Linked DNA regions of Homo sapiens. The protein of the gene in region 1 purifies or fractionates together with the protein of each later gene. This does not show direct contact. Each region holds a gene or a part of one and is shown in the gene's direction. Other genes may lie near its edges.

What was found.
Region 2: the proteins of NIPSNAP1 (region 1) and DNAJC21 purify together in Homo sapiens (affinity purification with mass spectrometry; one large-scale study listed by BioGRID and IntAct). This does not show direct contact.
Region 3: the proteins of NIPSNAP1 (region 1) and HPSE purify together in Homo sapiens (affinity purification with mass spectrometry; one large-scale study listed by BioGRID and IntAct). This does not show direct contact.
Region 4: the proteins of NIPSNAP1 (region 1) and NSMCE2 purify together in Homo sapiens (affinity purification with mass spectrometry; one large-scale study listed by BioGRID and IntAct). This does not show direct contact.
Region 5: the proteins of NIPSNAP1 (region 1) and TNRC18 purify together in Homo sapiens (affinity purification with mass spectrometry; one large-scale study listed by BioGRID and IntAct). This does not show direct contact.
Region 6: the proteins of NIPSNAP1 (region 1) and SOD2 purify together in Homo sapiens (affinity purification with western blotting; one study listed by BioGRID). This does not show direct contact.
Region 7: the proteins of NIPSNAP1 (region 1) and TCF20 purify together in Homo sapiens (affinity purification with mass spectrometry; one large-scale study listed by BioGRID and IntAct). This does not show direct contact.

Annotation. Positions count from the first base shown.
Region 1 is NC_000022.11:29,560,428-29,564,446, reverse strand, and holds part of NIPSNAP1 (protein NipSnap homolog 1), read left to right. Parts: intron 1-2,584; coding exon 2,585-2,655; intron 2,656-2,800; coding exon 2,801-2,941; intron 2,942-3,244; coding exon 3,245-3,276; intron 3,277-3,618; coding exon 3,619-3,713; intron 3,714-4,019.
Region 2 is NC_000005.10:34,942,606-34,946,624, forward strand, and holds part of DNAJC21 (dnaJ homolog subfamily C member 21), read left to right. Parts: intron 1-2,261; coding exon 2,262-2,420; intron 2,421-3,116; coding exon of another isoform or gene 3,117-3,155; coding exon 3,156-3,198; intron 3,199-4,019. UniProt on the Homo sapiens protein: May act as a co-chaperone for HSP70. May play a role in ribosomal RNA (rRNA) biogenesis, possibly in the maturation of the 60S subunit. Binds the precursor 45S rRNA.
Region 3 is NC_000004.12:83,306,953-83,310,971, reverse strand, and holds part of HPSE (heparanase isoform 1 preproprotein), read left to right. Parts: intron 1-81; coding exon 82-250; intron 251-893; coding exon 894-941; intron 942-1,476; coding exon 1,477-1,570; intron 1,571-2,020; coding exon 2,021-2,127; intron 2,128-4,019. UniProt on the Homo sapiens protein: Endoglycosidase that cleaves heparan sulfate proteoglycans (HSPGs) into heparan sulfate side chains and core proteoglycans. Participates in extracellular matrix (ECM) degradation and remodeling.
Region 4 is NC_000008.11:125,105,292-125,109,310, forward strand, and holds part of NSMCE2 (E3 SUMO-protein ligase NSE2), read left to right. Parts: intron 1-4,019. UniProt on the Homo sapiens protein: E3 SUMO-protein ligase component of the SMC5-SMC6 complex, a complex involved in DNA double-strand break repair by homologous recombination. Is not be required for the stability of the complex.
Region 5 is NC_000007.14:5,385,678-5,389,696, reverse strand, and holds part of TNRC18 (trinucleotide repeat-containing gene 18 protein), read left to right. Parts: intron 1-360; coding exon 361-2,025; intron 2,026-4,019.
Region 6 is NC_000006.12:159,679,485-159,683,503, reverse strand, and holds part of SOD2 (superoxide dismutase [Mn], mitochondrial isoform A precursor), read left to right. Parts: intron 1-865; coding exon 866-1,011; 3' UTR 1,012-4,019. UniProt on the Homo sapiens protein: Destroys superoxide anion radicals which are normally produced within the cells and which are toxic to biological systems.
Region 7 is NC_000022.11:42,267,531-42,272,264, reverse strand, and holds the start of TCF20 (transcription factor 20), read left to right. Parts: upstream 1-1,611; 5' UTR 1,612-1,926; exon of another isoform or gene 1,927-3,952; intron 3,953-4,734. UniProt on the Homo sapiens protein: Transcriptional activator that binds to the regulatory region of MMP3 and thereby controls stromelysin expression. It stimulates the activity of various transcriptional activators such as JUN, SP1, PAX6 and ETS1, suggesting a function as a coactivator.

The DNA of each region.
Region 1 (4,019 bases):
AAAATAAAGAAAATTCCTTCCTCTTGCCAATGATGCTGTCCTTGTAACTTTTCTCCGTTAATCCGTTTTCCACAGGTCATTCCTGGTTTTGGTAGATTTCTATCCATACAGTACTTTTGCCATTTCCTTTGGGAAAAAGACCTTTAAACCATAGGGTCAGGCCATTTTGCAGATGGGAAAATCAAGGCACAGATGGAGTCAAAAAACAGGTGAAGGTCAGGCTGGGGATGGGGATGGGAAGTTACAGAGTCTGAGTTTCTAGACTGCTGGCAGCCAGCTGCCCTTAGCTCTAGCTTGCCTGTGTGATCCCCTGGGGACCTTCCTCCGCTGATGGGCCCAGCCATGCTCCCAGGATGGCAAAACTGTTCCTTTCTTCTCCTCCACAATTAATTAGGTTTCTTTGTTACTAGGAATTAGATTAGTTTCCTGGGGTGGCCAGCATACCGCAAACTGGGTGGCTTAAAATAACAGAGGTTTATCCTGTCACAGTTCTGGAGGCTGGAAGTCACAAATCAAGGTGTTGACAGGGCTGTCCTTCCTCCTAAGGCCTTAGGGGAGAACCCTTCCTTGCCTCTTCCAGTTTCTGGGGATTGCTGGAAACTCTTAGTGTTCCTTGGCTTGTAGACTTGTCATTCTAATCTCTGCCTCCCTCGTCACATGCTGTTCTCTCTGTGTGTCTCTGTCTTCACATAGTGTTCTCCTGTGTCCAGATCTCCCACTTCTGATAAGGACACTAGTCACTGGACTCAGGGCTCACCTAGTATAATCTCATCTTAGGTCGATTATACCCACAGAGACCTATTTCCAAATAAGGTCACATTCTGAGGTTCTGGGTGGGCATAAATTTTGAGGGGACATTGTTCAACTCAGTGCAGATAATATGATTTTTATTTATTTTTATTTTTATTTATTTATTTTTTGAGACGGAGTCTTGCTCTTTTGCCCAGGCTGGAGTGCAGTGGTGCGATCTCAGCTCACCACAACCTTTGCATCCCAGGTTGAAGCGATTCTCTTGCCTCAGCCTCCTGAGTAGCTAGGATTACAGATGTGCATCACCACGCCCAGCTAATTTTTGTTTTAGTAGAGATGGGGTTTCGCCAAGTTGGTGAGGCTGGTCTCAAATTTCCGACTTCAGATGATCCACCTGCCTCAGCCTCCCAAAGTTGATTATTTATTTACTTGAGACGGAGTCTCACCCTGCCACCCAGGCTGGAGTACACTGGCACAATCTTGACTCACTGCAACCTCTACCTCCTGGGTTCAAGCGATTCTCCTGCCTCAGCCTCCCGAGTAACTGGGATTATAGGCATGTGCCACCACACCCAACTAATTTTTTTTTTTTTTTTTTAAGATGGAGTCTCGCTCTGTTGTCCAGGCTGGAGTGCAGTGGCATGATCTCGGCTCACTGCAAGCTCTGCCTCCTGGGTTCATGCCATTCTCCTGCTTCAGCCTCCCGAGTAGCTGGGACTATAGGTGCCCGCCACCACGCCTGGCTAATTTTTTGTATTTTTAGTAGAGACGGGGTTTCACTGTGTTAGCCAGGATGGTCTCGATCTCCTGACCTCGTGATCCACCTTCCTCAGCCTCCCAAAGTGCTGGGATTACAGGCGTGAGCCACCGTGCCCGGCCCAGGATTTTTATAAATTCTAACAGTACAAAGAGTTTTCCATGCAAAGTAAGCTTCCCTCCTGCCCGAGGCCCCACAGGCCTCCATTCTGTGTCCCAGGGGCATCTACTGTCAATCTCTTTTTTTTTGAGACGGAGTTTCGCTCTTGTTGCCCAGGTTGGAGTGCGATGGCACAATCTTGGCTCACCGCCACCTCTGCCTCCCAGGTTCAAGTGATTCTCCTGCCTCAGCCTCCCAAGTAGCTGGGATTACAGGCATGCGCCACCACACCTGGCTAATTTTGTATTTTTAGTAGAGATGGGGTTTTTCCATGTTGGTCAGGCTGGTCTCCACCCACCTCAGCCCCGCAAAATGCTGGGATTACAGGTGTGAGCCACTGCGCCTGGTCTACTGTCAATCTCTTAAGTCGCCATTAAGAGGTGATGCATAAATTAGCATCTCTGGATGTCCTTGCCACCTCAACACATGAGGTAGCATACCACACATCCTCTTCTGTTCCTTGGTTCCTTTTTTCAATTCACTGTCTTGGAATGTTCCATATCAGCCCATCAGTTCTCCCCTGTTCTTTTGTTCAGCTGCCCCTCTAAGGCCTGGTGGTCTTCCTTATGCATGCCACTGCTTCCAGGGTACAGGACACATCTGATCTTCTTGTTGCTATTTAAGGAAGGTGGGGTGGGAACATTATTCCCATTTTCAAGATGAGAACATTGAGGCCTAGAGCAGTCCAAGGCTGCTGGGCAGAGCTGGAGCTCAAATCCAGGTCTCCTAGACTTGTGTCTAGGGTCATCCCCTCCCCAGCATGGTCTTCCACCAAGGCAGAGGGAACTCAGGGAGTCTTGCTGCTACAGGGAACCAGGCCACCCCGCCTCCCCCGTCCCCACCACTTAGCCAACCTTGAGGAGGTCATCTGCTGGGGGTCCCAGCAGCTCACTGACCTATACCTCTCACCCCCAACAGTGCACCTGTGGCGATTCTCAGGTGGCTACCCAGCCCTCATGGACTGCATGAACAAGCTCAAAAACAATAAGGTATGTTAGTGTCCACTCAGCACACCTCTCTGGATGTGGGATGCAGCCCAGCCCTGTTCTGGGGACTACTCTGCTACCCCATGAGGCACACTGTCAGGATGGAGCGCACTTCCTGGTAGCCATGCCTTTACCACCATGCCCACAGGAGTACCTGGAGTTCCGAAGGGAGCGGAGCCAGATGCTGCTGTCCAGGAGAAACCAGCTGCTCCTCGAGTTCAGCTTCTGGAATGAGCCACAGCCCAGAATGGGTCCCAACATCTATGAGCTGAGGACATACAAGCTCAAGGTGCCTCCCTCCGACAGACCCCCTCCTGCCCCCCAATTTCCCTGCTGCAATGCTGCTTTGCAGCTGCCCCAACACCTAGACTGGGGCTTCTGGCTTCTCCCTCCCTATGGGCTCAGAGCAGAGTTGTATACACATGTGTGCAAACATGCACACCAGGTGTGTGTCAGGGCCTGCGAATGAGGCCAAATGGCCGCTGCAGCTTGGGAGGTGGGGAGACAGGGCAGTTTCCCTTCCTTGCCAAGCTGTGATGCTATGAATCTGAGGTGGGGGCTCATTCCCATCATCCCTTTGGTTCTCTTTCAGCCAGGAACCATGATCGAGTGGGGGAACAACTGGTAAGTGGCAGCACCAAGACTGGGGTTGGGGGAGGCGTACCCTGCTCACCTGCCCCACCAAGGCCCCTGGTGGGCCACCTTTTCCAGGGCCATATCACAGGGAACTCTTTACCTTCTGCCCCTCATGGATCTGGGAGAAGGATCCAGCCAGGAGGTGAGGATCTCCTAGAAGGTTGTGACCCCTCCGTTGGTAGAACACCCCGCCATCAGTCCTTTCTCTCAGCATCCCGGAGGACCGTGGGTTCCACCTAGGCCCCTCCTGTGAAGTGTGGCCAAGGAATCAGCCTCAGTACCCTCTGCACCAGCCCTGGCTTCTGCCCCATATTATTGTGCCTTCTCCAGGGCTCGGGCCATCAAGTACCGGCAGGAGAACCAGGAGGCAGTGGGCGGCTTCTTCTCACAGATAGGAGAGCTCTACGTGGTGCACCATCTCTGGGGTAGGTTGAGGACCTTCCAGGAGCCTTTTGTTAGTTCTCTTTCTCTGTCATCACTCTCTGTAGCCAATGGGGTTGTATTAGTGTCCTCATAGAACTTAATGTTCTAGCAGGAGACACTATCTTAGATGTAAAGTCACAAAAAGATCAATTTCAGATTACAAATAATATTTATAGAAAATAGGCAAGGAGTCTGGGAGCGGTGGCTCAAGTGTATAATCACGACACTTTGGGAGGCCGAGGTGGGCAAATCACAAGGTCAAGAGATCGAGACCATCCTGGCCAATATGGTGAAACCCCATCTCTACT
Region 2 (4,019 bases), on another chromosome or scaffold:
AAGAGAATATAGTGTGTCTGATTGACCTGTTACTAACGTTTTGCACAATTTGCATGTCCTCTTTCTCTCTACACGCTCAACACACACACAGTATTTTTCTGAATAATTTGAAAGTAACTTACATATATAGTGTTCCTTTACCTCTAAATACTTCACTATATCTTAAGAATAAGGTTATTCTCGCTGGGCGCAGTGGCTCACGCCTGTAATCCCAGCACTTTGGGAGGTTGAGGTGGACAGATCACCTGAGGTTGGGAGTTTGAGACCAGCCTGACCAACATGGAGAAACCCCGTCTCTACTAAAACTACAAAATTAGCTGGGCGTGGTGACGCATACCTGTAATCCCAGCTACTCAGGAGGCTGAGGCAGGAGAATCGCTTGAACTCAGGAGGCGGAGGTTGTGGTGAGCCAAGATCGTGCCATTGCACTCCAGCCTGGGCAATAAGAGCAAAACTCCGTCTCAAAATAAAAAAAAAAAGTAAGGTTATTCTCTTATGTAACCATGCTACAGTGACCAAATAAAAGAAATTATTAACATTGATATGGTATTTTTATCTAATTTACTACCTGCATTCCAATTTTGCCAATCAATTATTTATTAATATAGAATTTTTCTCCAATACAGAATGCAGTCTAAGAACATAATCTGGAACAGCTTGTGTTGTCTTTTATGCTGTTTACATTTTAGAAGTACACTGTTTTCACTTTTTTCATAGAATTCTTCTCATTTTGTCTTTGTGCATTTCCTCATGATTAGATTCAGGTTATGCAGCCCCAGGAGGGACGCCGCACAAGCATGTTGTGCTCTCAGGGATTCATAGCTGGAGACACGTAAAGTCCTTCTACCCCTCATTTGTCGTGATAATTTTCATCACCCAATCAAGGTGTCATCTAATTTTACTACTATACTACTAATTTTACTATAGAGTTAGTATTTTTTCCCTTGCAACAGGTTTTCCCTTGTAACATGTTTAATCTGTGAGGAGACACTTTAAAACTATGCAGATATCTTGCTTCTCATAAAAGTTTTCCTCATAGCTTTAGCATCTGTTGATGGTTTTAGCTTGCGTCAGTCTTTTTTATGATGGTTGCAGAATGATGCTTTTCCAGTGCCAGTACCCCCTCAAGTTTTTATCAGTTAGCACTTGGCCTTCTGCTGTAAACAGGAGCCTTCCCTTTTATCCATTTATCTATTATCAGTTTGAATTTATTTCTTTTTTTCAGTGTTTTATAATTCATTACTGACCTTTTCATGCTCAAATTTTTCCAGAATTGGTTAGTGAGCATTCCTTCAAACCACCCTTGTGTCCTTTTGACATGTGCTTATAACTTTTTTGGAGGACTTACTTTCAGACACAGGATCTTCCATTATCTCCAGGGCAGCTTGGTCTCAAGGAGAATTTTAGTAGGAAAGAAAAACAGCAACTAAAACTATAATACCAAAAGCCTGAACAGATGAGATGAAGTAGATAGTTGACAAAGTTTCCTGCTTTTTAGTTGATATAACTCTTGTAGCTTATGTTGTCAACCCTGTTTTGTTGAATGCTTTTTAGTTGCCTGTAGGTGTGCTGAGACAGACATTGCCAGCAGGGTTTTGAACACAGGGATAGAGATGTGTCTGAATGTACGTTACGGTGGTGAGAGTGAGAAAGGAGACCTCTCCTGAGAAGGTGAAAAGCAGCTGTTGAAAAAGCAAGAGGCAGTAAACTGCTCTTGTATTTCAAGCCTTCCCACCACCATTTCTCTAGTCCAGGGGGCTCTTCCTTTTAACATTAAAATGTGTGTCTTCTAATTTCCCAGTGATCCCTCCAAGTCTGTGGGATGGCCTGGAATGTAAAAACACTTAGCAAATACTTAGTGATTAAAAGAAAACAATGGCGGAAGCTTTAAGAATTGAAAAATCAAAATAATAAGTAGAGAATTTGTCCAAACCTCCCCCTGCCGACATTCCCCCATCCCCAGAAAGGAAGAAAATGTATGTAGATAAAAGGACAGAGAAAGACAGGGAAAGCTGTGGTACGGAAAGAAAGAGTGTGGCCACGAGCTTCCAGTATGCTCACTGCCAAGGAATCCTGACACGTTCTGTTTCTCTGTATAAAATCATGAACAAATAAAAAAAAAGAAAAAAATAAATAGAATCAGAAACGTTTTGCTTAGTGGGAAAAAAGCTAATTTTATCTTGGTTGCAGTTATCCAGCAACATTATCTGGACACGTGAACTAATTTTAGCGCAGCTGCTCACGTCAGATTGCTCTTTCAGCATGAAGAATCACGAGAAGTCAAAGAAGCATCGGGAAATGGTGGCCTTGCTAAAACAACAGCTGGAGGAGGAAGAAGAAAATTTTTCAAGACCTCAAATTGATGAAAATCCATTAGATGACAATTCTGAGGAAGAAATGGAAGATGCACCAAAACAAAAGTACTTCTAAATATTAAATGTCACTAGAAATACTTATCACATTCAGAGATTGCATTAAAAGGTTTTTTTTGAGATGGAGAATCACTCTGTTGCCCAGGCTGGGGTGCAGTGGCGCAGTCTCAGCTCACTGCAACCTCCAACTTGTGGGTTCAAGTGATTCTCCTCCCTCAGCCTCCCAAGTAGCTGGGACTACAGGCACACACCACCACGCCCAGCTAATTTTTGTGTTTTTAGTTGAGACAGAGTTTCACCATGTTGGCTAGGCTGGTCTTGAACTCCTGATCTCAGGTAATTCACCTGCCTCAGCCTCCCAGAGTGCTGGGGTTACAGGTGTGAGCCACTGCGCCCGGCCTTAAAGGCTGTTTTATCCCAAGGAAGTTATTCTAACTAGAAAAGATTGTCTCCATATTTTCTAGTTAATGGAACTTTATAGTGTTGAAGTGGATACAGACGTCAACTATAATATTTATAGAACATATTATCACTATATTAAAAGCAGTTTTTATACCTGGCAGTTGATAAGCTAATTACTATCCATTGAACTACAGCCTTGTGTTATTCTCTAAAATGACAATGTGAATACTTTATTTTCCTTTTAATGCTTTAAGATATTAAATATTTTTAATCTTTTACTTCTGTTTTACTACTTTATCACTAGTGTTTCAACTTTTTTTTTTTTCCACTTACTCTTCACAGAGTCAAGTATTTGACATTTCGATTTATATTTGCTCTTAGGCTTTCTAAAAAACAGAAGAAAAAGAAACAGAAACCAGCACAGGTATGTTAGAAAGGTTTTGTTAACATTAAATGCCAACGATAAAGTTGCAGTGCTCTTATTTATTCAGTGTAGTCTGTGTTAAGGAGAGAAACTTATACTCCATAATTTTATGTTGATTGTAAGATTGATTAAAAAGGAATTAGAAATATTTTCCTTTTTTAGTGCTTCCCCCCCCTTGTATGTATGTAATAACAAACTTAATTATGACTGCCAGTGTGTTTAACAAGTATGCATGTAGAATTCCCCTGGTATGAATTAGCTGAATTTTCAGTATTTTAAAAATCTGAATACATCTCACAAAAGGCTTTTAAGTCAAGACAACAATTAAAATCTTGAAATAGGAAAATCTGGGATTGGTCATTTTTTTATCTCAGTTTATTCTGCCAACAACATAAACATTGCAAAAGGAACATTTGGTTAGAAACTTGTAATGATTGTGAGTCTTGAAAAAATGTTTCTATTTTTCTGAAGTTTAAGTAATTTAAATATTTCACAGCTGAAGTCCAAATTCATTCTCTGTCTTAAGGACTATTTTTAAATAAAATGGTATTATGTTGTTATACCTATAAAAATAAAGTGAATTTGTCCATTTTACCAAGGACATTTGGATTTATGGCATTTTAGTATAATCTAGTTATATTAACTTACATTAAGTATTAAATATTTTTAAGAAAACACATTAATGCTTTTTAATAAAACTTCAGATTTGGTTTATTTATCCAAATGGTTATAATAATATATTTAATAGTCTTTTTTAAAATCAGTTTCCTATTCAAAAAATGATATATGACACATGAGTTAATCACTTAAAATTGTAATTT
Region 3 (4,019 bases), on another chromosome or scaffold:
TGTTGCTTTTAAATACTGCTATATGTTTGCTTTTAAATACAACATTTCTCGATATATATTTTGAGAATTGCTGTCTTTCAGAACCTAACAGTTTCCTTAAGAAGGCTGATATTTTCATCAATGGGTCGCAGTTAGGAGAAGATTTTATTCAATTGCATAAACTTCTAAGAAAGTCCACCTTCAAAAATGCAAAACTCTATGGTCCTGATGTTGGTCAGCCTCGAAGAAAGACGGCTAAGATGCTGAAGAGGTAGGAACTAGAGGATGCAGAATCACTTTACTTTTCTTCTTTTTCCTTTTGAGACAGAGTCTCACTCTGTCAGCCAGACTGGAGTGCAGTGGTACAATCATGGCTCACTGCAACTTCGACCTCCCAGGCTCAAGCAATCCTCCCATCTCAGTCCCACAAATAGCTGGGACTACAGGTGCACATCACCACACCTGGCTACTTTAAAAAAATTTTTTTGTAGAGATGGGGTCTCCCTGTGTTGCCCAGGCTGGTCTCTTGAATTCCTGTGCTCAAGCCATCCTTCCACCTCAGCCTCCCAGAGTGCCAGGATTACAGGCATGAGCCACCACACCCAGCCACCACTTTTCTTAAAAAAAAAAAAGATTCTCTCTGGTAGACAATCCTCAATAGTCCACATGTTATTAAACAATCTGCTGCCTGAATACATGATTTACCAAAAAAAGGAAATTTTGACGGGTTCAGAATATCAAGGGATCTGAGGCAAATGTCACCTATGATAAAATTTGCTATCAAAATTAGGAAGTTTGTGTTTACCTGATCCTAAAGCAGTAACCAGCCCATTTCTAGGGAATAAAACTCTCATGCGTATATTGTGCATATATATGTATTATATGACTGAGTGATAATAAAATTTTTTTTCTAGCTTCCTGAAGGCTGGTGGAGAAGTGATTGATTCAGTTACATGGCATCAGTAAGTATGTCTCCTATTCTTAATACTAGGAAAGTAAGGCTAGCTTTATTTATTACCTAGTATTCAAAAAGTTAGTTCATTTAACTGCCAATTGACTGCAGTTCAAATAAGAAACAAATAGTGTCTCAAGTAGCACTGTACTCCAATTTTAATATTAATAAAAAAAATTTAAAGTTATTTTAAATAATGTAGTGGTTTCTATAAAGATCACTTTATACAGAAGAACAGTGCCAATTAACCCATGGAACATATAAGTAGCTAAAACCAATTGCTTGCCAAAGAACCAGTAACCCAGGAGTACATGTACTTGCCACTGTGTTTTTTCAAGACAGAGTAACTGATTTCTAGTTACTTGCATAGAATGGACTCCTCCTCATAACTCCCTTCCATCTTGGTCTTTCCCTAGTAGAACTTCTACCTTTTTTTAGTAACAGGTGAGTGGGAGAGGTAAGAAGGAGAATAAGGTCAGCAATTAACCTAAAAGCAGAAAGTAAAATTTGTTATTTTTTTTCTGAATATTTTCTGTGTAATTTAGCTACTATTTGAATGGACGGACTGCTACCAAGGAAGATTTTCTAAACCCTGATGTATTGGACATTTTTATTTCATCTGTGCAAAAAGTTTTCCAGGTAATAGTCTTTTTAAACTTTTTAATGTAAAACCAGAATCCTTATTTTATAGTCTAGCTAGTTCTAAATTCTATAGGTATGTATATTTACATGTTTTTCTAATTTTAGAGAACAAGCACTATGACTTATCCACTGTTAGTTTTCCCCTTAGCATTGGGTCTTACCCCATGTACGTGATTAGAAATTTGAAATATTTCCAATAGCCTTTAGTAGAATTAACTCACATAGATGATAAGAATGGGTTGGTTCACTTCATGTTCCTTCCACAGCCTACTATTTCAATAAAAGAAAGTTTCCCAAGACCTAAATGACTATGAACATATTTTATAACTATATAGGAGGGGTGGGTCTAGGAATACAAAGTTTTGAATGCTGTTAATCTTCAACACCACAGTTGAAACCACAGGTCAGCTTTTTTGCAATTACCATGGATACTTTTCTGTTCTATAGGTGGTTGAGAGCACCAGGCCTGGCAAGAAGGTCTGGTTAGGAGAAACAAGCTCTGCATATGGAGGCGGAGCGCCCTTGCTATCCGACACCTTTGCAGCTGGCTTTATGTGAGTGAAGCAGCGCTGGCCTTAGGGGTCAGAGTGCAGCTCTTCTCCATCCTTCTATTCTGCTGAAATAGCTCCCCAGCCAAAAAGCAGATCAAAGACCATTTCAGTGGCTGAGCCCCAAAATTCATGCCAGATTTTGCAAGAAAATGATTTACTAAAGCTTGAGGGACATCTTTAACAAGTGTTCCAAATTAATCACTATAAGGATGAATTGTTTCAGAAATTTTGGCCTTTAATTATGGCCCATAAATATGTCAAGTAGTCCTTACTCTAAAGAAGTACACTGTAAAAGAATGCATATAGCCGGATATGGTAGTTCCCTGTAATCCCAATACTTTGGGAGGCCAAGGTGGGAGGATTGCTTGAGCCCAGGAGTTTGAGGCTGCAGTGAGTTATGATGGTGCCACTGCACTCTAGACTGGGCAACAGAGTGAGACTGTCTTTTTTTTTCCCCTCTGTCACCCAGACTGGAGGGCAGTGGCACGATCTCACCTCACTGCAACCTCTGCCTCCCGGATTGAAGCGATTCTCCTGCCTCAGCGTCCTGAGTAGCTGGGACTACAGGAGTATCACCGCACTGGGCTAATTTTTGTATTTTTAGTAGAGACGGGGTTTTGACATGTTGCCCAGGCTGGTCTGAAACCCGTGAGCTCAAGTGATCTGCCTACCTCAGCCTTCCAAAATGCTGGGATTACGGACATGAGCCACCACGCCCGGCCACACCCTGTCTCTTAAAAAAAAAAAAAAATGCAAGTTAGAGCATATTACAGCTTTGTCTCTCAGGAGGATACTTAGTGTATGTAGCTATAATTCATAGATTCCCAAGAAGTTTAGAGCCTAAAGTATGAGGTCCCACCAGAGGGGCTATCATTAAATTTAAAGATTTGTTAAATCATCTCATTGTCCAACACCACAAACTTGATTGCTTTAAAATACTGGTTTAGTTACATTTAGTAACTCTATTAGTGCTTTTAATCTATACTGCTATATCCTCACATTGAGATTTTTTTTCTTTTCTCTTCCATCTTCATTCTTTTTTCTCTCATCCTCATTCTTATAAGCCTAGAATACATCACAAATCCTTTATGCCCATGGAAGCAAGAGGAATAAAGAATGGAGATGTTTGTTTTGCCATTAACTAAAGATCTGGGGTGTCGGGGAGAAGGGGGATAGAGAAGGAGAAGTGGGAAGAGGTGTCCATAATAGCTTAGGTGCAATTCTGCTTATTTTACATTTTACCCCCGCTGACTGCCACTTTTTCTTCAGCCCTCACACATTGTTTGTGCAGGGACCTCATAGGACCAGGAATTGTCTATAGAGGTGGGAATTTGTCTCACCCTGAAAGGGATACCTCTAGCATGGTAATAGTCTTCTAGGATTTGTTATCATATGGAAAGATGTAAAGGGAGGGATTCTGCTGCTGCTGCTGCTGCTGCATGCAGTTGCCATTTCATTTAAATGACTTATTTATAATTGATGACACTTTTCTGGCTTCCTGTTAATTCCTCCCTCAAAGATCAATAAACCAGAACCAGGCATGGTGGCATGCACTTGTGGTCCTGTAACCACCCAACAGGTTCACCTTGCCTGCTGTCTAGATAGAGCCAATTATCAAGACAGGGGAATTGCAAAGGAGAAAGAGTAATTTATGCAGAGCCAGCTGTGCAGGAGACCAGAGTTTTATTATTACTCAAATCAGTCTCCCCGAACATTCGAGGATCAGAGCTTTTAAGGATAATTTGGCCGGTAGGGGCTTAGGAAGTGGAGAGTGCTGGTTGGTCAGGTTGGAGATGGAATCACAGGGAGTGGAAGTGAGGTTTTCTTGCTGTCTTCTGTTCCTGGATGGGATGGCAGAACTGGTTGGGCCAGATTACCGGTCTGGGTGGTCTCAA
Region 4 (4,019 bases), on another chromosome or scaffold:
TTTTGATTATGTTTTTGGTGATCATAATTTAGCTTTGATAGATAGGCCTGGATAAAAGTCATAATAAAATCTTAAACCATAAGAGAGAAGACTGGAACATAACCCCTTGGGAGATTGTATCAGTTTTTTTCAGGATTCTTTTTGAAGATTCCTGGGAGTTTTAGCTACAGAGTTTTTTTTTTCTCTTGGTTTTGTTTTGTTTTAAATAAGAGGTATATTTTGTTGTAAAATACAACATGTGCAATTTAAGAAGAATTATAAACATCATTTTTTGAAAGGTTCATGCTCTAAAGCCAAAGTTGGCAAAGTTTTTCTATAAAGGGCCAGATAACAAATATTTTCAACTCTGTAGGCCATGTGGTTTCTGTCACAACCCGCTGTTGTAGTGCAAAACCCACCATAGATGGTACGTAAATGAATGGGCATGGCTGTGGTCTTATAAAACTTTATTTACAAAAATGGGCAGTGGGCCGGATTTGGCTCACAGGTCTTAGTTTGTCAACCCCTGCTTTAGTGCCGCAGATTGTCATTAAGTAATTTTTAAAAGAAAGATGTATTTATTTTTTAATATTTGGATTAATTTTACAGCAAATACTTGATTTTGCATTTACCAAAAAAGTTAATTTAAGAAAAATTTTGAGCAAGTTATATGGGAAAAAAAGTGAACTAAACAACTTAGACAGACACAGAGTCACCAGGAGCCTGGACTTCTTATGAACTCAATATGTATATGAATACATGCGTGTGTGTGTGCATACACACACACACACACACACACACATTTTAACTAATACCAGGAGTCAAAATAACAAAGTAGTCAACATAAACTAACCAAGTGACTATTCTGCATATAATTCAGCTCTAGGTTTTAAAGAGGACATAAACAAGTATTAAGTAGTTCTTCCCTTCATAGAGTTTACCATCTTAGTGGGAAGACAAACACATATTAAAATACTAAAACAATGAGAAAACAGAAAAGATGTTATAAAGCTGCAAATAACTAATATCACCACTGATCTTATCAGAAAAGTCATACGCTCTCAAATTTATAATGGTGAACACAAATTTTTCAAAGTTCTAATTTTTTCTTTAAAACTTTCACTTTGGGCTGAGTGTGGTGGCTCATGTCTGTAATCCCAGCACTTTGGGAGGCTGAGGCAGGTGGATCACGAGGTCAGGAGTTTGAGACCAGCCTGACCAACTTGGTGAAACCCCATCTCTACTAAAAATACAAAAATTAGCCGGGCGTGGTGGTGCGCACCTGTAATCCGAGCTACTCAGGACTCAGGAGGCTGAGGCAGGAGAATAGCTTGAACCTGGGAGGCGGAGGTTGCAGTGAGCAGAGATCAGGCCACTGCACTCCAGCCTGGGCGACAGAGCAAGACTCCATCTCAAAAAAAAAAAACAAACAACTTTCATTTTGGCCGGGTGCTGTGGCTCACACTTGTAATCCTAGCACTTTAGGAAGCCGAGGCTGGAGGATCACCTGAGTTCAGGAGTTGGAGACCAGCCTGGCTAACATGACGAAAACCTGTCTCTACTAAAAATACAAAAATTACCTGAGCGTGGTGGTGGGCGCCTATAATCCCGGCTACTCGGGAGGCTGAGGCAGGAGAATCGCTTGAACCCTGGGGGCGGAGGTTGCAGTGAGCCGAGATCACGCCACTGCACTCCAGCCTAAGTGAAAGGGCAAAATTCTGTCTCAAAAAAAAAACAACAAAAAAAAACTTTCATTTTACCATTAGCAACAAATGCTGTTAGTTGTTGTCTTTGAAATTACAGTTGCACAGGCTCACTTTCTTCATTTTTGAGAAAATGTCTTTCAGATACCCAAACCTGAATAACCATAGTTTGTCTGTGAATTGTTCTATATTGTACTGTTTTATCAAGGACATTCTTTTTTTTTTTTTTTTTTGAGATGGAGTCTTGCTCTGTCCCAGGCTATAGTGCAGTGGCACGATCTTGGCTCACTGCAACCTCCGCCTCTTGGGTTCAAGCTATTCTCCTGCCTCAGCCTCCTGAGTCCTGAGTAGCTCGGATTACAGGTGCACACCACCATGCCCGGCTAATTTTTGTATCTTTAGTGGAGACGGGGTTTCACCATGTTGTCCAGGGTGGTCTTGAACTCCTGACCTCGTGATCCACCCTCCTCGACCTCCCAAAGTGCTGGGATTACAGGCATGAGCCACCAGGCCTGGCCTATCAAGGACATTCTTAAATGAAACTAGCATTTGTTTTACTATGAGTGCTTGGTAGAGAGGAATACAATGATCTATTAGAGTGCAACAGTTTGGTGCCACTGCTCTGATTTTTGCTAAGGCACCAGCAGTTTTTTCCACAATTGCTTTTGCACCATTAGTACAAACATTCAACATTTGTACTAATGGTGCAAATGTTAAAAAAGAAAAAGAAAAACAAACAAACCCAGACAAATAGCATCTTAAAATTATGATGTAAATAAGCTAGGCCTGGTGGCTGACACCCATAATCCCAGCACTTTGGGAGGCCAACCTGGGCAGATTGCTTGAGCTCAGGAGTTTGATACTAGCCTGCAGCAACATGGCAAACCCTGTCTCTACAAAACATACAAAAATTAGCCAGGCATGGTGGTGCACACCTGTAGTCCCAGCTACTCAGAAGGCTGAGATGGGAGGACAGCTTAAGCTCAGGTGGCAGAGGTTGCAATGAGCTGAGATCACACGACTGTACTCCAGCCTGGGCAACAGGGCCAGAGCCTGTCTCAAAAAAAAAATAAAAAAAATTATGATGAAAATAGTTTCGACCCATGGATCCCCTGAAAGGGCCCAGAAGAAATTACGATGAAAATAGTTTTGACCCACGGACCCCCTGAAATGGCTCAGAAGACCACACTGAGAACAAACTGAGTTTGATTGCTTATGAATAGGAGGTAGATGACATGAGAAGTCCTCTGCAGAGAGAAAGCCAAGGGCAATCACTCCCACTGGGGTAATTCAGCAAGAACTTGTTAGGGGAGCAGTGTTAATGTGATACCAGACTGAGGTGCTGTCCAAGGACCCAGAGAGTAGGAAAACACCGGTTGTTTAAGGAAATTGGAGGGTAGATCAGCCTGTAACAGTAGATGAAAGACTTGTAGAAGGCTGATACTAAGGCAGCCAGTATCAGCACTTAAGTGCACGCTTGCTATTGGGTCCAGTCCTAACTCTGTCATAAGTTCTGTAACTTTGAGTAAGGTACCTAACTTCTTTCAGCTTCTAATTTCTTATCTGTGAAATAGGATTAAAATGCCTGCTTCATAAGATTGTTGGGACTAATGAGATAATATATGCTAAGTGCTCTCAGCCACAATGTTAATTCAATAGCTATCATATATGACAACCAGCAATTAGTAAAATTTGAGGGTCAGAACTTAGAAGAAGGGCCTGTGATGTGAAGAGGGTAAGAAAGATGGATGAGTTTGGAAGTCTGTGTAAGACTGAGTCCAGCTAAGTCACTAATTCATCAGATATGTTGCCAAAACTACAAAGATAAATAAAGGTTTCTTCCTTTGAGTTGTTTACAGTCTAGGTAGGAAATAAGACATATACTTGTTATTCAATCATTAAGTGAACATTGATGGCCTATAATGTGATGCTTTGCCAAGGAGTTTGAACCTTATCATTGGAAGGTTTAAAGTAGAGGAAAAAATATGGTAAGATCCAGTTTTAGAAAGATAACTGTCCACAGCAGTACTGAGGAAGGAAAGACTTCAGGTGGCCAAAGAGGAGATTATGTCAGTAGCTCAAGTGAAAAAGAAAATAACTTTGACTAAGGTATTGTAACTAAGGTAAAAAGGATTTGATTTGTGTGCTATGTATCTTATACCCTCATTGTAATACAGGCATAATAGTGTAATAGATGATTGCTTGGGTTCTTATCCCAGTGCCCTCTCTTATCTTTGTGACCTTGGGCAAATTCTCTACCCTCCAATTTGCCTCAGGTTTCCTATTTATAAAAGGCATTATTGTGGGGATTAGCGAGATAATATTTTACAAATTACT
Region 5 (4,019 bases), on another chromosome or scaffold:
GATCACCTGAGGTCAAGAGTTCAAGACCAGCCTGACGAACATGGTGAAACCCCACCTGTATTAAAAATACAATAATTAGCCGTGCGTGGTGGGGTGCGCCTGTAATCCCAGCTACCGGAGAGGCTGAGGCAGGAGAATCGCTTGAACCCAGGAGGTGGAGGTTGCAGTGAGCCAAGGTTGCGCCACTGTACTCCAGCCTGGGTGAGGAGAGCGAGACTCTTTCTGAAAAAAAAAACCAAAACCAAAACACTGGGGGAGGCATGGGTTGGTCCATCCCCCTCTCAGGGGTCCGCCTCCGCCCAGGCAGGGGTGGGAGGGGAGGTGGCGCTCGCTCACTGCCTGCTGTTCCCTTCTCCGCAGACGGTTTCTACCTGCCCACCGCGGGGGCTCCGGGCTCCCTGCACTCTCACGCGCCCTCGGCCCGGACCCCTGGCGGCGGCCACTCCTCGGGCGCCCCGGCCAAAGGCTCGTCGTCGCGGGACGGTCCAGCCAAGGAGCGGGCGGGCCGCGGCGGGGAGCCGCCTCCGCTTTTCGGCAAGAAGGACCCGCGCGCCCGGGGCGAGGAGGCCTCGGGGCCACGGGGCGTGGTGGACCTGACCCAGGAGGCGCGCGCCGAGGGCCGCCAGGACCGGGGGCCCCCGCGCCTGGCTGAGCGCCTGTCGCCCTTCCTGGCTGAGTCCAAGACCAAGAATGCGGCGCTGCAGCCGTCGGTACTGACCATGTGCAACGGCGGCGCCGGGGACGTGGGGCTGCCCGCGCTGGTGGCCGAAGCGGGGCGCGGGGGTGCCAAGGAGGCTGCCCGGCAGGACGAGGGCGCGCGGCTGCTGCGGCGCACGGAGACCCTGCTCCCTGGGCCGCGCCCCTGCCCCTCACCGCTGCCCCCGCCGCCCGCGCCCCCCAAGGGGCCTCCTGCACCCCCCGCGGCCACCCCCGCCGGCGTCTACACCGTCTTCCGCGAGCAGGGCCGTGAGCACCGCGTGGTGGCGCCCACCTTCGTGCCTTCCGTGGAGGCCTTCGACGAGCGCCCGGGGCCCATCCAGATCGCATCCCAGGCGCGCGATGCCCGGGCCCGCGAGCGCGAGGCTGGCAGGCCAGGGGTCCTGCAGGCGCCCCCCGGCTCCCCGCGGCCTCTGGACCGGCCCGAGGGCCTGCGCGAGAAGAACTCGGTCATCCGCTCGCTCAAGCGGCCGCCCCCCGCGGATGCCCCCACGGTGCGGGCCACACGCGCCTCCCCGGACCCCCGCGCCTACGTGCCTGCCAAGGAGCTGCTCAAGCCCGAGGCGGACCCGAGGCCCTGCGAGCGTGCGCCCCGCGGCCCAGCCGGTCCTGCAGCCCAACAGGCCGCCAAGCTCTTCGGCCTGGAGCCCGGGCGCCCCCCGCCCACCGGCCCTGAGCATAAATGGAAACCCTTCGAGCTGGGCAACTTCGCCGCCACGCAGATGGCCGTGCTGGCCGCGCAGCACCACCACAGCCGCGCCGAAGAGGAGGCCGCCGTGGTCGCTGCCTCCTCCTCCAAGAAGGCCTACCTGGACCCTGGGGCTGTGCTGCCCCGCTCGGCGGCCACCTGCGGCCGGCCGGTCGCTGACATGCACTCTGCGGCCCACGGGTCTGGAGAGGCCTCGGCCATGCAGAGCCTTATAAAGTACAGTGGCAGCTTTGCCCGGGACGCCGTGGCCGTGCGCCCTGGTGGCTGTGGCAAGAAGAGCCCCTTTGGAGGTTTGGGCACCATGAAACCCGAGCCTGCGCCCACCTCTGCGGGTGCCTCCCGAGCCCAGGCCCGTCTCCCACACTCCGGAGGCCCTGCAGCGGGCGGCGGCCGGCAGCTGAAGCGGGACCCCGAGAGGCCCGAGAGCGCCAAAGCTTTCGGGCGCGAGGGCTCTGGTGCCCAGGGTGAGGCAGAAGTGCGACACCCGCCTGTGGGCATTGCAGTGGCTGTGGCCCGGCAGAAGGACAGTGGCGGCAGTGGCCGGCTGGGGCCTGGGCTGGTAGACCAGGAGCGCTCTCTGTCGCTGAGTAACGTCAAAGGTAGGTCCTGGGCAGAGCCCAGGTGCGGGTAGGATCTTGGGTCTCTCTGCCGTTTCCCGTACATTACAGTGTGGGCCCTTTCCCTTTGCTATTGCTAAGTCTTTATAAGTATCATTTTTTAAAATGGTCTTGAATGTTCTGTTGCGAGCATGTACCATGGTTCAGTTTTCCACTCCCTTGATGGGCATTTTCGTTTGTTCCTTCTCCGATGTTTTGTGTTCGGAACGTTGCTTTCAGTCTTTGTGTGCATCGCACCTTCGTGATACTTTCAGTCATTTCCTGAGAACAGATGGTCTTGGGAATAGACAAATATCAAACCTTCAATTTGAAGTCATCGAGGGACCTAACTGTGCCTTACCGATTCCAGTGTCCCCGGTACCTAGCCAGCCTGGGCTCTGGCACGTAGTAGGTGTTTGATGGATGAGTGAATGAGTGAGGAACAGACAGAAACTGGGGTTCCAACATCCTCACGGTCTTGATACTCAGTACTTGAGTGACTTTTTAGGTAGGTAGAGAGTTTACGTGCCTGTAAGTGGTTTATGAGTATCTGTTATATTTTGGATTCTTTAGAATTGTTTTATTTATTTATTTATTTTTGAAACGGAGTTTCACTCTTGTTGCCCAGGCTGGAGTCCAATGGCACGATCTCAGCTCACCGCAACCTCCGCCTCCCAAGTTCAAGTGATTCTCCTGGCTCAGCCTCCAGAGTAGCTGGGATTACAGACATGTGCCACCATGCTTGGCTAATTTTGTGTTTTTAGTAGAGACAGGGTTTCTCCAAGTTGGTCAGGCTGGTCTCGAACTCCTGACCTCAGGTGATCCGCCCATCTCAGCCTTCCAAAGTGCTGGGCATTACAGGCGTGAGTCACTGCCCCCAGCCTGTTTTATTTATTTTTAGTTTATAAATTATTATTTTGTTTTAGAGATAGAGTCTTGCTCTGTTACCCAGGGTGGAGTGCAGTGGTGTGATCATAGCTTACCGTAGCCTTGACCTCCTGGGCTCAAGCGATCCTCCAACCTTAGCCTCCCAAGTAGCTGGGACCGCAGGTATGCGCCACCACGCCCGACTAATTTTTTCTTTTTCTTTTTTTTTTTTTGGAGACAGAGTCTTGCATTGTTGCCCAGACTGGAGTACAGTGGTGCCATCTTGGCTCACTGCGACCTCTGCCTCCTGGGTTCAAGCGATTGTGCCTCAGTCTCCCCAGTAGCTGGCATTACAGGTATGCATCACCATGCCTGGCTAATTTTTGTATTTTTAGTAGAGATGGGGTTTTGCCATGTTGGCCAGGCTGGTCTCAAACTTCTGACCTCAGATGATCCGCCTGCCTTGGCCTCCGAAAGTACTGAATCTCCTACCTGTGTCACTTTTTTTTTGTTGTTTTTTGAGATGGAGTCTCGCTCTGTCACCCAGGCTGGAGTGCAGTGGCACAGTCTCTGCTCACTGCAACCTCTGCCTCCTGGGTTCAAGCGATTCTCCTGCCTCAGCCTCCCGAGTAGCTGGGACTACAGGTGCGTGCCATCACGCCTGGCTAACTTTTGTATCTTTTAGTAGAGACAGGGTTTCACCATATTGGCCAGGCTCGTCTCAAACTCCTGACCTCAAGTGATCCACCCGCCTCGGCCTCCCAAAGTGCTGGGATTACAGGCATGAGCCACCGCATCTGTTTTTTTTTTTTTTTTTTTTTTTTTGAGACAGACTTTTGCTCTGTTGCCCAGGCTGGAGTGCAATGGCATGATCTTGGCTCACTGCAACCTCCGCCTCCTGGGTTCAAGTGATTCTCATGCCTCAGTCTTCTGAGTAGCTGGGATTATAGGTGCACGCCACCATGCCCAGCTATTTTTTTGTATTTGTTTTTCTTTAGTAGAGACAAGGTTTCACTGTGTTGGCCAGGCTGGTCTCAAACTCCTGGCCGCAGTTGATCCACCTGCCTCAGCCTCCCAAAGCTCTGGGATTATAGGTGTGAGCCACCATGCTTGGCTTTTTTTTTTTGGAT
Region 6 (4,019 bases), on another chromosome or scaffold:
TGAGTGTTTTTGTGTGTGCGTGATGGAGTCTCACTCTGTTGCCCAGGCTGGAGTGCAGTGGCGCAATCTTGGCTCACTACAACTTCCGCCTCCCAGGTTCAAGCAATTCTCCTGCGTCAGCTTCCTGAGTAGCTGGGATTACAGGCGCCTGCCACCTCGCCAGGCTAATTTTTTGTATTTTTAGTAGAGGCGGGGTTTCACCATGTTGGCCAGGCTGGTCTCGAACGCCTGACCTCAAGAGATCTGCCTGCCTCGGCCTCCCAAAGTGCTGGGATTACAGGCCTGAGCCACTGCGCCCAGACCAAAAGTTTTTTTAAATGGATGTTTTACAGATAGAACTAAATTCTTCATTTACCTCACTTAATTTCTGAAAACACTGTGTCCTCCAACTGCTCTGTATTCCCAAAGATTAAAATTAGCCTTGGGGAGCAGAGCTGGTTCCTCGTAAACCCCTGTGAGTGCCCAGACCCTTTGGAGGAGGTTCTCAGTGGGCTTTTGCCTGCTCCCACAGATGTAACCCACCCTTCCTGCTGCTCCTAAGACCACCATGAGGAAGGCTGGGAATTGGCTCTTGAATTAATTTGTTGGTATTTTTAAGAATAGCTATTAAAGTACTGTTGTTAATTTTCCCAAGTCTATTTTATTGTTAGTATTTGTCACATTTTCTTTGTAAACAGTGAATTAAAAATATTTTATAGGAATATTCATTCTTATCTAGATTTCCTACTTATATAAAAAAACAAGTGAATGAGATTGTTACAAAGGGTAATTTTGTGTGAGTAGAATAATAAAAGTTGAAATTGAGAAGATGCAATGTTTTAGACTGAAACTGATGGTTGGTTTGTTTTCCCCTTCTTTCTAACAGGCCTTATTCCACTGCTGGGGATTGATGTGTGGGAGCACGCTTACTACCTTCAGTATAAAAATGTCAGGCCTGATTATCTAAAAGCTATTTGGAATGTAATCAACTGGGAGAATGTAACTGAAAGATACATGGCTTGCAAAAAGTAAACCACGATCGTTATGCTGAGTATGTTAAGCTCTTTATGACTGTTTTTGTAGTGGTATAGAGTACTGCAGAATACAGTAAGCTGCTCTATTGTAGCATTTCTTGATGTTGCTTAGTCACTTATTTCATAAACAACTTAATGTTCTGAATAATTTCTTACTAAACATTTTGTTATTGGGCAAGTGATTGAAAATAGTAAATGCTTTGTGTGATTGAATCTGATTGGACATTTTCTTCAGAGAGCTAAATTACAATTGTCATTTATAAAACCATCAAAAATATTCCATCCATATACTTTGGGGACTTGTAGGGATGCCTTTCTAGTCCTATTCTATTGCAGTTATAGAAAATCTAGTCTTTTGCCCCAGTTACTTAAAAATAAAATATTAACACTTTCCCAAGGGAAACACTCGGCTTTCTATAGAAAATTGCACTTTTTGTCGAGTAATCCTCTGCAGTGATACTTCTGGTAGATGTCACCCAGTGGTTTTTGTTAGGTCAAATGTTCCTGTATAGTTTTTGCAAATAGAGCTGTATACTGTTTAAATGTAGCAGGTGAACTGAACTGGGGTTTGCTCACCTGCACAGTAAAGGCAAACTTCAACAGCAAAACTGCAAAAAGGTGGTTTTTGCAGTAGGAGAAAGGAGGATGTTTATTTGCAGGGCGCCAAGCAAGGAGAATTGGGCAGCTCATGCTTGAGACCCAATCTCCATGATGACCTACAAGCTAGAGTATTTAAAGGCAGTGGTAAATTTCAGGAAAGCAGAAGTTAAAGGCAAAATTGTAAATCAGTCGAGATCGGGTGCCTTCAGGGTGGTATGGCTGTATACCAAAATTGTAAATCACTACATGAAGCTTATATATTGGTTTGGCCTGAAAGGTGAAGTGGGGTAGGCAGGGGGCGGGCTTACAGGTTATGGTGGATTCAAAGACTCCCTGATTTGTGATTGGTTAAGGAAGCAAAGCTTTGTCTAAAAACTTGGGGTCCGCAGAAAGGAACATTAAGGTCTGGCCAGGCCCCTCAGGAAGAAACTGAGAGCAAAGAATGGAGGTCAGAGTTTAGTCCCTGGTGTTCCCCCTTATCTGACGTCTGTGTGAATCCATTTGGTGGGGGTCTGGGTTTCTGAAAAGTAGCTCAGGGGCACGTGTTAAGGATGTCTCTAGGTGACTCTAACTTCCCTGGCTATTGTTTGAAACTGTTATGACCTTCTTGCTTATCAGCTTGCTGGTTTCCTTCTCGGGGCGAGCTGGGTGCCTGGAGTTTTCGGTGAAGGAAACTCAAGATTCTCCTTTATTTCTGTGCTTGTGGGAATCCCCCTGGCACACCCCAAAGAGGGGTCCCTGCTCCGTCTCACAGGGATCTTTTTGTATATTTGGCTTAGCATCATACATTTGCCATGTTGTTTCATCATCTGCCTAATTTACTGTTTTTGAATATTTCATTTGTTTCTAATTGTTACTACAGATAATGCTGGGGTGAGCAACTCTGTGTACATAGGTTTATCTCCTATTGGAATATTTTCTTTATATAGGCGTTTTTTTTTTTTCTTTTTTTTTGGAGACAGAGTCTTGCTCTGTTGCCCAGGCTGGAGTGCAGTGGCGCGACCGGAGCTCACTGCAACCTCCACTTCCCGGGTTCAAGTGATTGTCCCACCTCAGCCTCCTGAATAGCTGGGATTACAGGTGCATGCTACCATGCCTGGCTACTTTTTGTATTTTTAGCAGAGACAGGGTTTCACCATGTTGGCCAGGGTGGTCTCGAACTCCTGACCTCAAGTGATCCGTCTGGCTCAGCCTCCCAAAGTGCTGGGATTACAGGTGTGAGCCACTGCACCTGGCCTATATAGGCTTTTTTCTTAAACCTATTTAGTAATGTTTTCCCAAGTTTATTTTTTATTTTTAATTTTTTCCCCAAGTTTATTTTTCTATTTTTTTTTCATGGAAAAATGGGGTAACTTAGCAGTTTCAATATTGAAGACTGAAGTTTAAAAAAAATTTAAATTCAAGGTACTTTTAAAATTCAGTTAGAAAAGTAGGCTTTAAAAATTATTAGAGACAAGAGTACCAAAGCGGTGTGTGTATGTGTGTGTGTGTATGCATGCTTGTGGATTGGAAAAACTTTGGAGACTGATTACTTTTCATTATATATGTGTCACAGTGAAACAGCTTTTATGTGTCATGTAAGATTACTGCTTGCCTCTCTAAGGAAGGTCGTGACTGTTTAAATAGACGGGCAAGGTGGAACCTTTTGAAAGATGAGCTTTTGAATATAAGTTGTCTGCTAGATCATGGTTTGTATTGAACTAACAAGGTTTGCAGATCTGCTGACTTATATAAAGCTTTTTGATTCCTACTAAGCTTTAAGATTTAAAAAATGTTCAATGTTGAAATTTCTGTGGGGCTCTATTTTTGCTTTGGCTTTCTGGTGAGAGAGTGAGGAAGCATTCTTTCCTTCACTAAGTTTGTCTTTCTTGTCTTCTGGATAGATTGATTTTAAGAGACTAAGGGAATTTACAAACTAAAGATTTTAGTCATCTGGTGGAAAAGGAGACTTTAAGATTGTTTAGGGCTGGGCGGGGTGACTCACATCTGTAATCCCAGCACTTTGGGAGGCCAAGGCAGGCAGAACACTTGAAGGAGTTCAAGACCAGCGTGGCCAACGTGGTGAAACCCTGTCTCTACTAAAAATACAAAAATTGTTTAGCTCTGTTTTTCATAATAGAAATAGAAAAGGTAAAATTGCTTTTCTTCTGAAAAGAACAAGTATTGTTCATCCAAGAAGGGTTTTTGTGACTGAATCAGCAGTGCCTGCCCTAGTCATAGCTGTGCTTCAAAAACCTCAGCATGATTAGTGTTGGAGCAAAACAAGGAAGCAAAGCAAATACTGTTTTTGAAATTCTATCTGTTGCTTGAACTATTTTGTAATAATTAAACTTTGATGTTGAGAAATCACAACTTTATTGTACACTTCATTGCAACTTGAAATTCATGGTCTTAAAGTGAGATTTG
Region 7 (4,734 bases), about 13 Mb from region 1:
AGGAGAAGCCAGGTACTGGTCTTTTAAAAGTCTTGAGGCCTGAGAATTTGAAAATGAAACTCAGAAGAACAATGGGAATAATCAGAGGGCAGGGCCCCGTGGCTTGTTCAGCTCTGCCCCGGAAGAGCCTGGCATGCAGGAGGTGTTGGGGAATCAAGTCCCCAGGAATAGTCCTGACCTGCTTTGGAGCCAGCCCCCACTTTGTGAGATTGGACAGAAGCCAGGAGAAATCACTGCCTTCCCCAAGTACATGCTCCTGCCAAGGGGCCCAGGACCACCTGGGGCTCTGCCTGGGACCCTGAGACCCTCCTTGGGTAGCCTGAGAAAAGGCAATGGCTAGGTGGGGTGAAAGGTCAAAAAGTAAAAGCAGGCCCCGGGAAGCTGTGTACCTCAAATATATGGAAATCTGGGTTCCAGACCACACCTGGTTCCTGACAATCCCCACCTGCTGCCGGAAGCACTTTTCCAATCCCAACTTTTAAGTTGGGTTGCTTCAGGAGAGGAAGCCACATACTCCCCTAACATCTAGGACAGATGGGAGCCTAATTTAGAATCGGCAATTTTAGCCAACATTAGGGACATCTAATCCAAACTCTCCTCACCCACAGGAAACTGAGGCCCAAAGTGGGAGGAGAATTTGGCCAGGTCAAAGGTCAGGGGCAGGATCACAAATTCTCAACGCATCCTACTCTTGCTGGCCTTGTCACTTTTGATGGCCGTGGGGGCACCAACATCTACATATTAGTTGCTCTACAATTGCGATTTTCTTTATAAAGAAGTCAAGCCCTTCCTTTGCTTTAGAAACATCAGGTTTGCAAAGGAAGGCTGGGAACAAGCTGAGGCCTTGGCACCGCAAATCCTCCGCCTTATCGGCAAATTAATTCGGGACCCTGGGCGCAGTCAGCCTGGCATTGCAGCTTCTTAATGCCGCAGCAGAAGGCAGCTGGAGCGTCCGTTTTACAGGTGAGGTAGGTGGGCCTCCCTCCTCGCGTTTTCCGCGGTGGAAACTGAGGCTCTGAGAGGACCCAAGTCGTTCCTCCACGGACACCTGGAACCCATGGGCGGGGGCTGCCAGGGACCCAGGCGGGACCAGCTAGGTCTTGGGCTGCCCCCGGCCCAGAGGGCTCTTGGCGGGCAGGAGCCGCCCCCACGCCCGACCCCACTAAACAGGTCACCGAGAGGAGACCGGGTCCTCGCCCGCGGACCTCCCGGGCCGCAAGAGGCGCGATTCTGGAGTTGGAGGCTCCAGGGAACTCCAGAAATCCCAGAGAGATTCCGGGCCACCAACTCCCCCAGAAAGTTGGCTCGCGTCCACCCCCAAGACGGCCCTGAGGCGCAGGCCAAGATGGCACTGGGCGGGTGGCGCGCGGCGCCCAGCGGCCGCAGAGGAGAACCCCGTGCGACCCTGCCGCGAGGTGGGGGTCTTCGCGATCCCTACCCGGCGCGCGCCAGCCTCGACGCCGCCGCACGCGGGTGGGCACGCGCGCGCCCGGCCCCGCCCCCAGCGCCCCGCCCCCGCCGCGCGCCCCGCCCCGCCGCGCGCCCTCCCGCCCGCCCGCGCGCCGCGGCCCGGAGCCTCCCCATTGGCCGCGCGCCGTCACCTGACGCTCTGTTATTTCCTGTGTGTTGGGAGAATGGAGAGAAAAAACCCCGAGCCCAGCCGCTTTCGGCCCCTGCGAGGCGGCCGCGGCCTCCGCCAGGGGAGCCCGCCCTGAGGCGCGCCTGACCGGGGAGCGAGCGCGCGGGCCGGAGCGAGCCTCGAGGGGCCGCGGCCCCGGCCCGCCCCGCCGCCGGCCCGGGCGCCCGAGCTGGAGGCGGCGGAGCCACCCCCACCCCCACCCCGCGCAGCGCCGCCCGCCGTCGCCACCGCTCCCTCCCCGCCCGCCCCCGGCGGAGGCCGAGGGACTGGGCGGGGGGCTCCTGCAGGTAACCGCCTCCCGGGCCTGAGGGGCAGGGAGAGGGTTGGGCCTGAAGGACTGGGGCCGGGCCGGGGTGTCCGGCCTCGGGGGCTGGGAGCAGAGGTCCCGGCCGGACCCAACCTGGGAGTGCGGAGCCTCCTGGACTCCGAGTCAGGGCTTGGGGTGCTGAGGGGAGTGTTGCTGCCCGGCCCGACCCAAGAGTGCGGGCAGGGGCCCGGGCCAGGCCTGGCATCAGAGGGCTAAGGTGTCTTGGGCCGGCCCGGGGTTCCGGCGGGGCTTGGGTGCCGGTGCTGGCCCGAGGGTGCGGAGGGAAGGTCTACCTGCTGGTCGCGCGAGGCCTTGGGTGCAAAGGCGGCGGGTGTGAGCGGGCGGCGTCCGGGAGTCAGCGCCGCCTGCTTCGGGGCCCCTGGCAGCCCCGGGGGCACCGGCCGCGCTCGCCTCTTGGCTACGGGCTGGAGGCGAGGCCAGCGGGGCTGGGCCGGGATGTGGGCGGGAGGGCGCCGCGCTGGGGCGCCCAGGAGAGCAGGGGCCCGTTTACTGCCATGTGAACACCTGAAGCCATGTGGACGCGGCTGCTTCTCGCCTGTTGGGGGCGGAGGGCAGGTACCGGCGGGTTGGGCGCAAGGTCCCGGCGCAGGACACACTTCCTGTGTGGGGCGGCCTCTCCTCCCGCGCCGCGGGGAACAGGGCGGGGTGTGCAAGCCGGGGTCTCTGGGCGAGGGAGCGCTCGTTTGGGGACCTGAGGCTTTCGTCCCTTTTTCGGGGGAAAGTGGTGGTTTGAAGGAGCGTGGCCAATCGGGCCGATCCCTCTCAGGCTACGGCGGGAGGTGCACTGTCCTCTGGACGCCGGAATGGGAGTGGAATTTAGTGAGTTGGGGGGCGGTGCCGAGGAGCGGCCGTCTTCCTCTGCTTGTGGGTGGGATTATTGTCTGTTTTTGTGGTTGCGGATACCAATACGGTCTGCTGGTCTGTATTCAATCCTTTAGTTTGACCTTAGGGGTCAGGTCAAAATTAGGATTTCCCCCTTTTCCTTTTTGCTTTTTTTTCCTCGAAGATTAGATGTCTCTGGTAACTGCTGTAAAATGGATGGAATTTTCGAGCTATTATCTAACAGGCTGATCTTTGAATGATAATTGGACCCTTATGTTAACAGCCTCAGTGAAGAGTGAAGAGTTTTATACAGCATCTTCCGTGGGGTGGCAGTTAGGTGGATGGGGAAGCTACACTGAATTCCGACCTGGGAGACCAGGAATCTGCTTACAGCTTTGACGCCAAATAAACTGCAGCCCAGGGCAAGTTACTTTCCCTGGTAATTTTCTCATCTGTTAAGTGAGGACTCCCGGGTCAGACGGTACAGGGGTTTGTGGTTTTGCTTTTTTATCTCTCATTTTGTGCTCTGTTTTAGCCATAGGCAACTTTTCTGAGAAATGCAGACTGTACCTTAGCTGGCTTTTAAAAGCCTGTCTTTAAGCTTCCAGCCTCTGCCTTCAACAGAGCATAAAAGTTGGTCAGGGTACGCTCTTTTTTGAAATCCCACTTGCTGTTCTGTGCTTCAGATCAGAAAGTGTATTATTCTGACCTAGGTGGAATGCACCTTAACATATTTTTTGTCTTTGTGAAAGAAGTTATCAGAAAATGTTTCAGAGAATATTTGTCTACTTGGAAAATGTGTGGATAACATGTGATTGGGTCTGTGTATGTTGGCTCAGAGGAGTTCCAAGATCTTTCTACGCAGGGGATTTTGGAGGATCCAGATTTTATTAAAGTTCTTCAAAGGACATTTGACATTTGGCTAACTGTTGAAATTTCCAGCCAGTTTCAGCATTCTCAGAGTAGGGGGATGAAGTAGAATGCCATAACATCTCCTGTGAAATGGTATGCTAGTGGAATTAACTGTCACCTCAGGGTGCACTGATTATCTGCATCCCCAACTTTCTCCTTACTGGTAGCCAGTGCTCCGCAGATGCTGAAGAACCGCAATTAGTTTCACTGATTTTATGGTGTGTGAAGGCCTTAGGCTGTGCTTTTGACTGGTAAGTATTTCTATACCAACCTCAGAATTTGTCTTAAATTTCTAGAACTGTGCTGCTGGGCCGGATATGAGCCCAATATGTTACAATATGTCTTTCTCAGATCACTTTTTATTTTTATATATTATTTAATTTTTAAAATTAAATCCCCTTTTATTTACTTATTTATTTTGACACAGTGTTGTTCTGTTGTCCAGGCTGGAGTGCAGTGGCACGATCTCAGCTCACTGCAGCCTCTACCTCCCAGTTTCAGGTGATTCTCCTGCGTCAGCCTCCCGAGTAGCTGGGATTAGAGGCATACACTACCACACCCGGCTAATTTTTGTATTTTAAGTAGAGACAACATTTCGCCATGTTAGCCAGGCTGGTCTTGAACTCCTGACCTCAGGTGATCCGCCTGCCTTGACTTCCCAAAGTGCTGGGATTACAGGTGTGAACCACTGCGCCTGGGCTAGATCACTTTTTGATTCAGTCTCTTTGAACAGTTTCCAAAAGGATCCCAGCATAGGGGCAGAGTGCTTATAATTATTGACTTCGGAGACAGTTTGGTAGTAATTTTCTTGTATGTTACCATCAGGCCTATCACACAAGTAAACACTTTTTTGTTTGTTTTTTTGAGACAGAGTCTCTCTCTGTTGCCAGGCTGGAGTGCAGTGGCACTATCTCGGCCCACTGTAACCTCCGCCTCCCGGGTTCAAGCAATTCTCCCACCTCAGCCTCCTGAGTAGCTGGGACTACAGGTGCGCACCACCACGCCCAGCTAATTTTTGTATTTTTAGTAGAGA